Homo sapiens: one gene and its partner. The protein of the gene in region 1 purifies or fractionates together with the protein of each later gene. This does not show direct contact. Each region holds a gene or a part of one and is shown in the gene's direction. Other genes may lie near its edges.

Region 1 (3,913 bases):
GCTCAGGCTGGAGTGCAGTGGCGTGATCACAGATCACTGCAGTCTTGACCTCCTGGGTTCAAGCGATCCTCTCTCTTTAGCCTCCTGAGTAGCTGGGACTAAAGGTTCAGGCCACCACGCCCAGCTAATTTTTTTCTTTTTTTTTTTTAGTAGAGATGGAGTCTCGCTATATTGCCCAGGCTGGTCTCAAACTCCTGGGCTCAAGGGATCCTCCTGCCTCAGCCTCCCAAAATGCTGGGATTACAGACGTGAGCCACTGTGGCTGGGTAGCCACTTTAGACAGCAAAGACATCTCTGAGGAGGGGACATGTAAGCTGCGATCTGAATGGAAAGAGAACGACACAAGTGAAGAAGATCTGTGGGAAGAGCATTCCATACAAAGGCTGAGGTCAGGAACTCCTCCAGAAGCTCATAATTGCACCAGAGGTGCTTACAACCCCAAGCAGTGACAGTGGCACAGAATATTCAACATCAAATGCCTAAGCTAATTTCCAGGCTGAGAAAGGTAAACCATCCTTCTCCTGCCTGCAGTGCTTCTATCGGTCCTGAAAGAGACAGAGGAGGTAAGGGAGAAGAATTGGTACGAAATGGTGCAGAGCTGGTCTCAGAGGGCAACAACAGCCAGCCCTCCATGACCACACTCCCACCGTGCACTCACGTGCCCCTCTTGAAGCGGCTCTGATCCTGTGACCTAACCAGTTTCCACCTGGCTTCTCTCAGTGCGTTGCCATATAGTATAATTTTTTGTTTGTTTGTTTCGTGTAGGGTTTTGTTGGTTCTTTTCCAAGTATCAATCAAAACTACATGCCAACGTCCACTCCTTGGAAATAATTAAATGACATGACGTGCCTGATTTTTTCAGCTGGTGATGCACTGTAATTTGCATCTGCTGAAGGAATTTATCTTAAGTCCTGAAGCCCAGCCACTTGAGACAACTGAGGTGATTTTTCTGCTCTGCTTTTGCTCATGCGGATGGTGCGTTATTGTTAAACACAAAAGTGGACTAATTGCTTCATTCTGCAACCTACTCCGTGAAGAAAGCTGCTCTTCTTTGTGAAGAGAATATGTTCATGTTTTGTTCATGAATTCCATGCAATTTCCCATCCCCTTGTTAAGTAATGTAGCTTCTTTATATTGGCAAAATTCCCTTTATCTTGCTGTGACCTGCGCTTTGTCCTCCCGAGCAGAGCAAATCATCTGTGGTTTAAGAGCAGCTTTGGATTCAAGTCCCCTTTTCTCCTGTCGAGGGAAGTGAGTCTATGAAATGGCCTTCATCTGAAAGCCACAGCGAAGCACCTCCTAGCCCAAGTCTAGCTGCTGTGTGGCAGCTCCAGCGGCGTGAACTGTGACTGCCCTGCAGACACCTATCAAGCGCTGCGTCAGCTATTAATAATAAAATCAACTCTTCTCCCTCCCCCCCGCGAGGGGGGTTCCCTCGTCAGGGCCCAGAACCCGCTGGGGAAGAATCGGGGCTGGCGTGCGAAGGAGCTGGCGGCAGGGGGTGTAGGATGCGGTGTTCCCGAGGCGACAGATGAAGGATTTGGGTTGTGTGGGAAGTGAACTGCGGAATTCCTCCCCTTGGTTTCTGAGGGGGGCTCTGAAGGAGCCAGATTAGGATGCAGAGCGCAGCCCGGGCGACCGAGGGCGAGGAGGCGAGCCAAGGACATCAGCCCGAGGGCGCCTCGAGACGCCCCGCGTGGACCGCGCTCCCAGCTCCTCGGCCTCGCCTTCCAACCATCCGCCCACCGGCCCCAGAGCAGCGTGCCCACTGTGAGCGCCCCACCCTGCGTCTGCAGGTGGGTGGGTCAGAGAACCGCAGGCACAGAAGAGGGTACCCAGCTTCCCCTCCGCCAGCCCCGCGACCGCGGCGCGCGCGGCCTCGATCCGGGTTCCTAGGGGCGGCGCGCGGGAGGGGGCGGGGCCTGCGCGGCAGCGTGGGCGCCAGGCGCGCGGGAGGAGGGAGCCGGGAGGAGGGGGCGGGGCCGCGCCGCCCGCGCCGCGCTGGGCGCTCTCGGCCAATGAGCGGCGTCCACATGCCGCGGCGGCGGCGAAAGGGGAGGCAGCGGCCGATAAATGCTATTAGAGCAGCCGCCGCGGAGCCGTCCCCGACGCCACCTCCTTTTCCTTCGCCGCAGTTTCCTCCGCCGCTGTCGGGCGTGCGGCGCTGAGGGACCCGGGCGAGCGCGCCGCGCACCGCCCCGCCGGCTCGCCTCCCTCGCCGCGTTCCGCCCTCAGTGGTCTGCCGGGCGCCCCCTCCTCCGGCCCGGGCGGGGCCTCTGATCGCCTCAAGAGAGCGGGGAGGGGGCTCGGGGGCCGCGGCCTGCCCTCCCGGCGGGCGGCTGAGGGCGAGGGAGGCCCTCCCTTCTGGCGAGGGGAGGGAGGGTGGGTCAGGAGCCCCCAACCCGCCCTGCGGAGCTCGGGGCCGCGCGAGGGGCGGTTGTCTGGGGGAGGGGGCGCGGGGTGATTCAGCGCCCGGCGAGGCGGAAGCGGCCGCAAGAGGAGGAGGGGAGAGCCCGTCCGCGCCTGGGCTCCCGGGGTGGCACGAGCCCGCGGCCGGAGTGCGAGGCGGAGGCGAGGAGGCCGCGGGGACGGGAGGCGAGGCCGGCCGGGCCCCCGAAGCCATGGAGAACGCGCACACCAAGACGGTGGAGGAGGTGCTGGGCCACTTCGGCGTCAACGAGAGTACGGGGCTGAGCCTGGAACAGGTCAAGAAGCTTAAGGAGAGATGGGGCTCCAACGGTAGGTGCAGGGCGCTCCGCTGCAGGGGCCCGGCGCGGCCGGGAGAGCCAGGGAAGATGGCTGACCGGGCTCCACCTCGTGGGCTTCGGCTCCGCGCCCGCCGACAGCTGCGGGCGGAGGGTCGGGCCAGCGCGCCGGCCCCGCGGGAGAGAAAGGGGCTGCGGTCCTCGCCTCGCCTTCCCTGGACCTCTTCGCTTCTCGGGCCCTCGACCTTTTCGGCGCGCAAGGCTCGGAGGCTTCTCTCCAGCAGCAGCCGGCCCCGGTGGAGGGAGGGACGTGGCTTCTGCAGCTAGGTTGAGCCCGGCAAGACGTTTTCTCGTCCCCTGCCGATTTATGAGGAGTCGAGGTCGTTGGAAGGCCTCTGACCGTTCTTGTCCTACCCAAAGTTACACATCTGGCAGAAGTGATGACATCGCTGAAACCACTCCTAGGTTCAGGAGCCCGAAGTGATTTCACGCTTAGGGCTAGACCTCAGGCCATTGATTACAAAGAGTGCATGCTTCCTTGAGATATCTTCGTGGTATGCCCTCTGCTAAAAAAATCGGATATTCTTATAGCTAGGTCTGTGTTTTAAAGATATTGATGCTTAGAATTGTAGCAGTTCTTTTTAGAAAAACGAAGTGCTAAAATGTCTCTCTCTTTTTTTTTTTAACCTCCCTCTTGACACATTGCTTGACGAATTTCTACATTCTACAGAGTTACCGGCTGAAGAAGGTAATCTTAACATGCTGTTTCTGTTTTTTTTCCTCTGTTGGTGTGCTGATGGTAAGATGACAGTTAAAACACATGTGTTTGTTTCTTACAGGAAAAACCTTGCTGGAACTTGTGATTGAGCAGTTTGAAGACTTGCTAGTTAGGATTTTATTACTGGCAGCATGTATATCTTTTGTAAGTATAAAAAAATTTATTTTCTTTCCCCCCAAAAGCTGAAAGTATTCCATAGATAAATCAGAAAACAAATGATGTCCATTGGGTGAAAACATATTTGGAGTTGCAAGCTGTGTCTCTATGTTTAAAAACAATCTGGGCATTTTAAAATTACAAAACAAAACACTTGAAGCCATTGGTATTCAGAAAATAGATGCCTGACATTTACAGTGTGGTTAGGAGTTGTCCCAGAGTGTGGCATGGTCTTAGAAATTCTTGTGGTTTATCAGCTTTTAATATCAAAAAG
Region 2 (3,913 bases), on another chromosome or scaffold:
AACAAGATTTTTTTTTTTTTTTTAAGCAAACCTGCAGATCCTGAGGGTTAAACCCTCCTTATGCCTTTGAGTAGTTGTCAGGTGATTTGGGGCGGCTTGCATGTGTTTCTGGAGAGGGTAAAGCTAAACTAGTGATAACTACATTCCAAGTGTAATCCCAATCTCTTGACATTACAGAAGAAACCACTAATTTTCAGAAGCGTCTGAAGTCTGGGAATTTGTCAATGCACTGGGCACAGTAGTCCTTGGTGCAGCTTAGACATGCTTAAATGAGGCAAACCAGACTAACCCATCAATTCGGTCAAATAAGAAGTAGAATTTTTCTTCTAAGTTACTTTGAAATTGACCAATTCAACAAAATGACAACATTGGAGAGCTCTTTTGGTGATACGTTAACATTTCGCTATTGTATTTAACATTTTAAATATTGTAGAGCTAATTCATAATCTGAGATGTACAAAATAAATGCTTATCCCATAAACCTAATATCAACACATGATATACTACAAATAATTTGATTCCAAATGAATTAAGAAAAAAGGTTTTCAAGTTTCAGATTCTTTTACCAAAAATATCCTGGGAATTTGAGATTGTGCCTATGCAGCCTCAAACGGATGAATAAAAAGTAATGTAGGCCGGGCACCCGGTGGCTCACACCTATAATCCTAGCACTTTGGGAGGCTGAGGCGGTTGGATCACCTGAGGTCAGAAGCTCAAGGCCAGCCTGGCCAACATGGTGAAGCCCCATCTCTACTAAAAATACAAAAATTAGCCAGGCATAGTGGTGCATGCCTGTAATCCCAGCTACCCAGGAGGCTGAGGCAGGAGAATCGCTCGAACCCGGGAGGCGGAGGTTGCAGTGAGCTGAGATCACGCCACTGCACTCCAGCCTGGGTGACAAGAGCAAAACTCCATCTCAAAAGAAAAAAAAAGTAAAGTAAAGTTTTGTTTTTTTCCCCTTTGGGTGGTGAGATTAAAAGTAATTTAAAAGTTTTAAATACTTTAATATATTTTCACATGTCCTACAATAAATATATAACTTTTTTAATTTGACAAAAAATAATTTTGAGTGGTTACAAAAAGGGACAGGTGTGGCTTGGTAACTAGAAAAACATTCCCAGCCTGGGAAACAATCTAGTGAGAGCTTGGAGGCAGAAGACAGAACTCTGATTACATTCAAGGAGTTTGCCAGATGGCAACAGATAACTGCCAATGTTCGGTTGCACTATAATTATTATACACTCTCTGTCACTTCAGCAAGCGCTCTTTTCACAAGACAAGTGGTGACAGAATGTTGTATTAAGATTACCCGTTGCTAAGCTTATGTTAAAATGAGGAAATGAAATGGAAAGTCTTGTTTTGGTAATGTCTCTGGGGTATGAGGAATGGAGGGAAAGGTTTGACTATGAGCATAACTGCATAGAGAATTTTGTTTGTTTATGCCTTTTGGGAATGCATTATTTTGATTGACCCTAATTGGGAATTCAGAGGGGGAGATTTCCTCTATTATCTATAAAGAAAGGATCTGCTGAGCAAACACAATTGCTAGGGTCATGTTTAAAGTACTTAATTGATCTGCTTTCAAGTCTAATTTAACACTTCAGGGGCTCCAAACATGTGATACATTGGTTACAAACTCATCTTAGTCTAATTTTAGTTAGTGTTCATATTAGAAAGTTATATAATACTTTTCTTTCTTTCAGATATATTCTATAATTCACATTTTTCACTAATTTTACCCAGTTCTCCTTCCACTCCCAATCTATCCAAATAACTGAGTTGAACTGTGTGAGTTTACTGCTCTATTAATTTATTGCCAGAGATATACAAACCATGACTTCCTCGGCTGTTTCAGATGAAACTGTAGATCCACGTGTAAACTTGCAATGCACAGCTTAGCTGGAAAGTTACGTGGAGCAGGTGACGGAGGGGATAGCTTTCACTGCTTGGACTAAAGTCAGTTTTGAAAGAGCTAAAGATGCCTATTGAATTCTGGAGTGTGTGTGTGTGTGTATGGGTGTGCATATGTGTGGGTGTAAGGCAGCAAACTCTTCACATTTCAAATAACTAAAGATATGGGTGGTAAAATGAAGTCACATTTTTACACCTCACAGGCTGACTAGGGAGAGCAGTCAAATGCAGCATCGATTGGTTAAAATTAGTCTATCATTCTTGGTTTATGATGTTTTAAAGACATGTTAAAGTTATTCATGAAGATGTAAAAGACACATTTAAAACCCACATCAATTGCACTAAAAGTCAACTGGAAACAGAAGGTTTTTAAATCCTGGTGGTGGCAAATTGGCAGCCAAAGGAACAAAGTCTTAGTCAACATATTTCCATGTCCCCCGAACACAAATAGCCTCGAACCTTCGGAGGGTGTTCCTTTGAGATGTTTCATCAGTGACATCACAGTGATTGCCAGCTTCCACGGACTACTTTAGGCGCTGCCCAGAGTCCAGGAGTCCAGACAGCCTGGGAGGGGAGAAGGAGTTGGAGCTCAAGTTGGAGACAGCGAGGAGAAACCTGCCATAGCCAGGGTGTGTCTTTGATCCTCTTCAGGTAACTGCAGGATTTTTATGCTTAGCATACGGTGTGTGTGTGTGTACAAGCTGCAAATGAGAAAGGCAGAGGAATGTTTGCATTTCTTAATGAAATAGGCAATGCCCCTTGGATACAGCATGCCTTAAGATATAAAGTGAGTACTATTGCTTTCTGTTTTCCTTTTTTTTTCTCCTAAGGGTATGCATTTTCTCCCTTCCTAGTAAAAAAAAATTTTTTTTCTTTCTTGTATTATGGAAGATGGTCTTTTTTCTATCTTCTCTAAGTCTCCATTCAAAGAAAGCCAATGTCAAACTTCCTGCACAATTTATTCAGAGCTTTTTGGGTTTTAGTTCATCCATTTGCAATCACTGGATCATATGGCATGACCTTGACTTCAGGGAATGTTTAAAATGAAACCCAAAGTGTCTTTATTGGTTAAAAGCAGAAAAATGGAACTTGGCTGATCTGAATTTCTGCCTAACTGGTTCATTCTTCCTAAAGTGTATAAATGTGTGTGAAAGGAATGTTCACACCACACCTTACAGTTAGCATATGTGTTGATTGAATTGAATTCACTAGAAATTCTCACCTTAACTCTTCATGTTTTATTCATCTAAAATCACATAAAACAACAAATATTCAAGGTCACCATTAAAGTGCAAGAAGTAGTAAGAGGTAAATCCCAAGAAAGAAAGAAGTGTGATGGGTAGCCTGCTAATTCAGAAATGACTGAAAAAAAAAAAGTTAAGAGTGCATAAACATACACAGTTTAAACAATAACTGAAAGGCAACACTTCTATAATTATCATCCAGGTCAAGAAACAGATCATTGCCAGCACCCAGAAGCCCATTCTTGATCAACCCCCATTCTGCCCCAAGATGTTGGGATCCTCTTGTCCCTGTTATTCTTTATAATTTGACCATCTATGTCTGCATGCCTAAACAATATGATTAACCTCCCTATTTTTGACATCATATAAATGGAGTCATATTCTCTGTTTCTTTTGTAAATTCTTCTTTCACCCAACAATTATATTTGTGAGATCTACCCATTTTCTGTGTAGCTATAGTTCATATATTTTCTTTGCTTTATGAAATTCAAATGTATAACTATACCACAATTTATCATCCATTCTGCTGTTGATAAACATTTGAGTTGTTTCCAGTTTGGAGTTATTGTGATAATATTGCTGTGAACTCTTTATTTATGTAACCTGGCACGCACGTCCTTGACTGTCTTAAGGTAGAAGTGAAATGCCAGATATTAGAGAATGAACATTTTCAACATTAATTCTAAGAAAGCTAAATTGTTTTCCAAAGTGGTTGAAAATTTATGCTAACTTTGTTTAGCCAGGCCAGTTAATTGCAG

Evidence for each region.
Region 2: the proteins of ATP2A2 (region 1) and SLN purify together in Homo sapiens (affinity purification with western blotting; 2 studies listed by BioGRID). This does not show direct contact.

The regions. Positions count from the first base shown.
Region 1 is NC_000012.12:110,279,169-110,283,081, forward strand, and holds the start of ATP2A2 (sarcoplasmic/endoplasmic reticulum calcium ATPase 2), read left to right. Parts: upstream 1-2,078; 5' UTR 2,079-2,621; coding exon 2,622-2,739; intron 2,740-3,435; coding exon 3,436-3,453; intron 3,454-3,544; coding exon 3,545-3,627; intron 3,628-3,913.
Region 2 is NC_000011.10:107,710,612-107,714,524, reverse strand, and holds the start of SLN (sarcolipin), read left to right. Parts: upstream 1-2,468; 5' UTR 2,469-2,562; intron 2,563-3,913. UniProt on the Homo sapiens protein: Reversibly inhibits the activity of ATP2A1/SERCA1 and ATP2A2/SERCA2 in sarcoplasmic reticulum by decreasing the apparent affinity of the ATPase for Ca(2+). Also inhibits the activity of ATP2A3/SERCA3.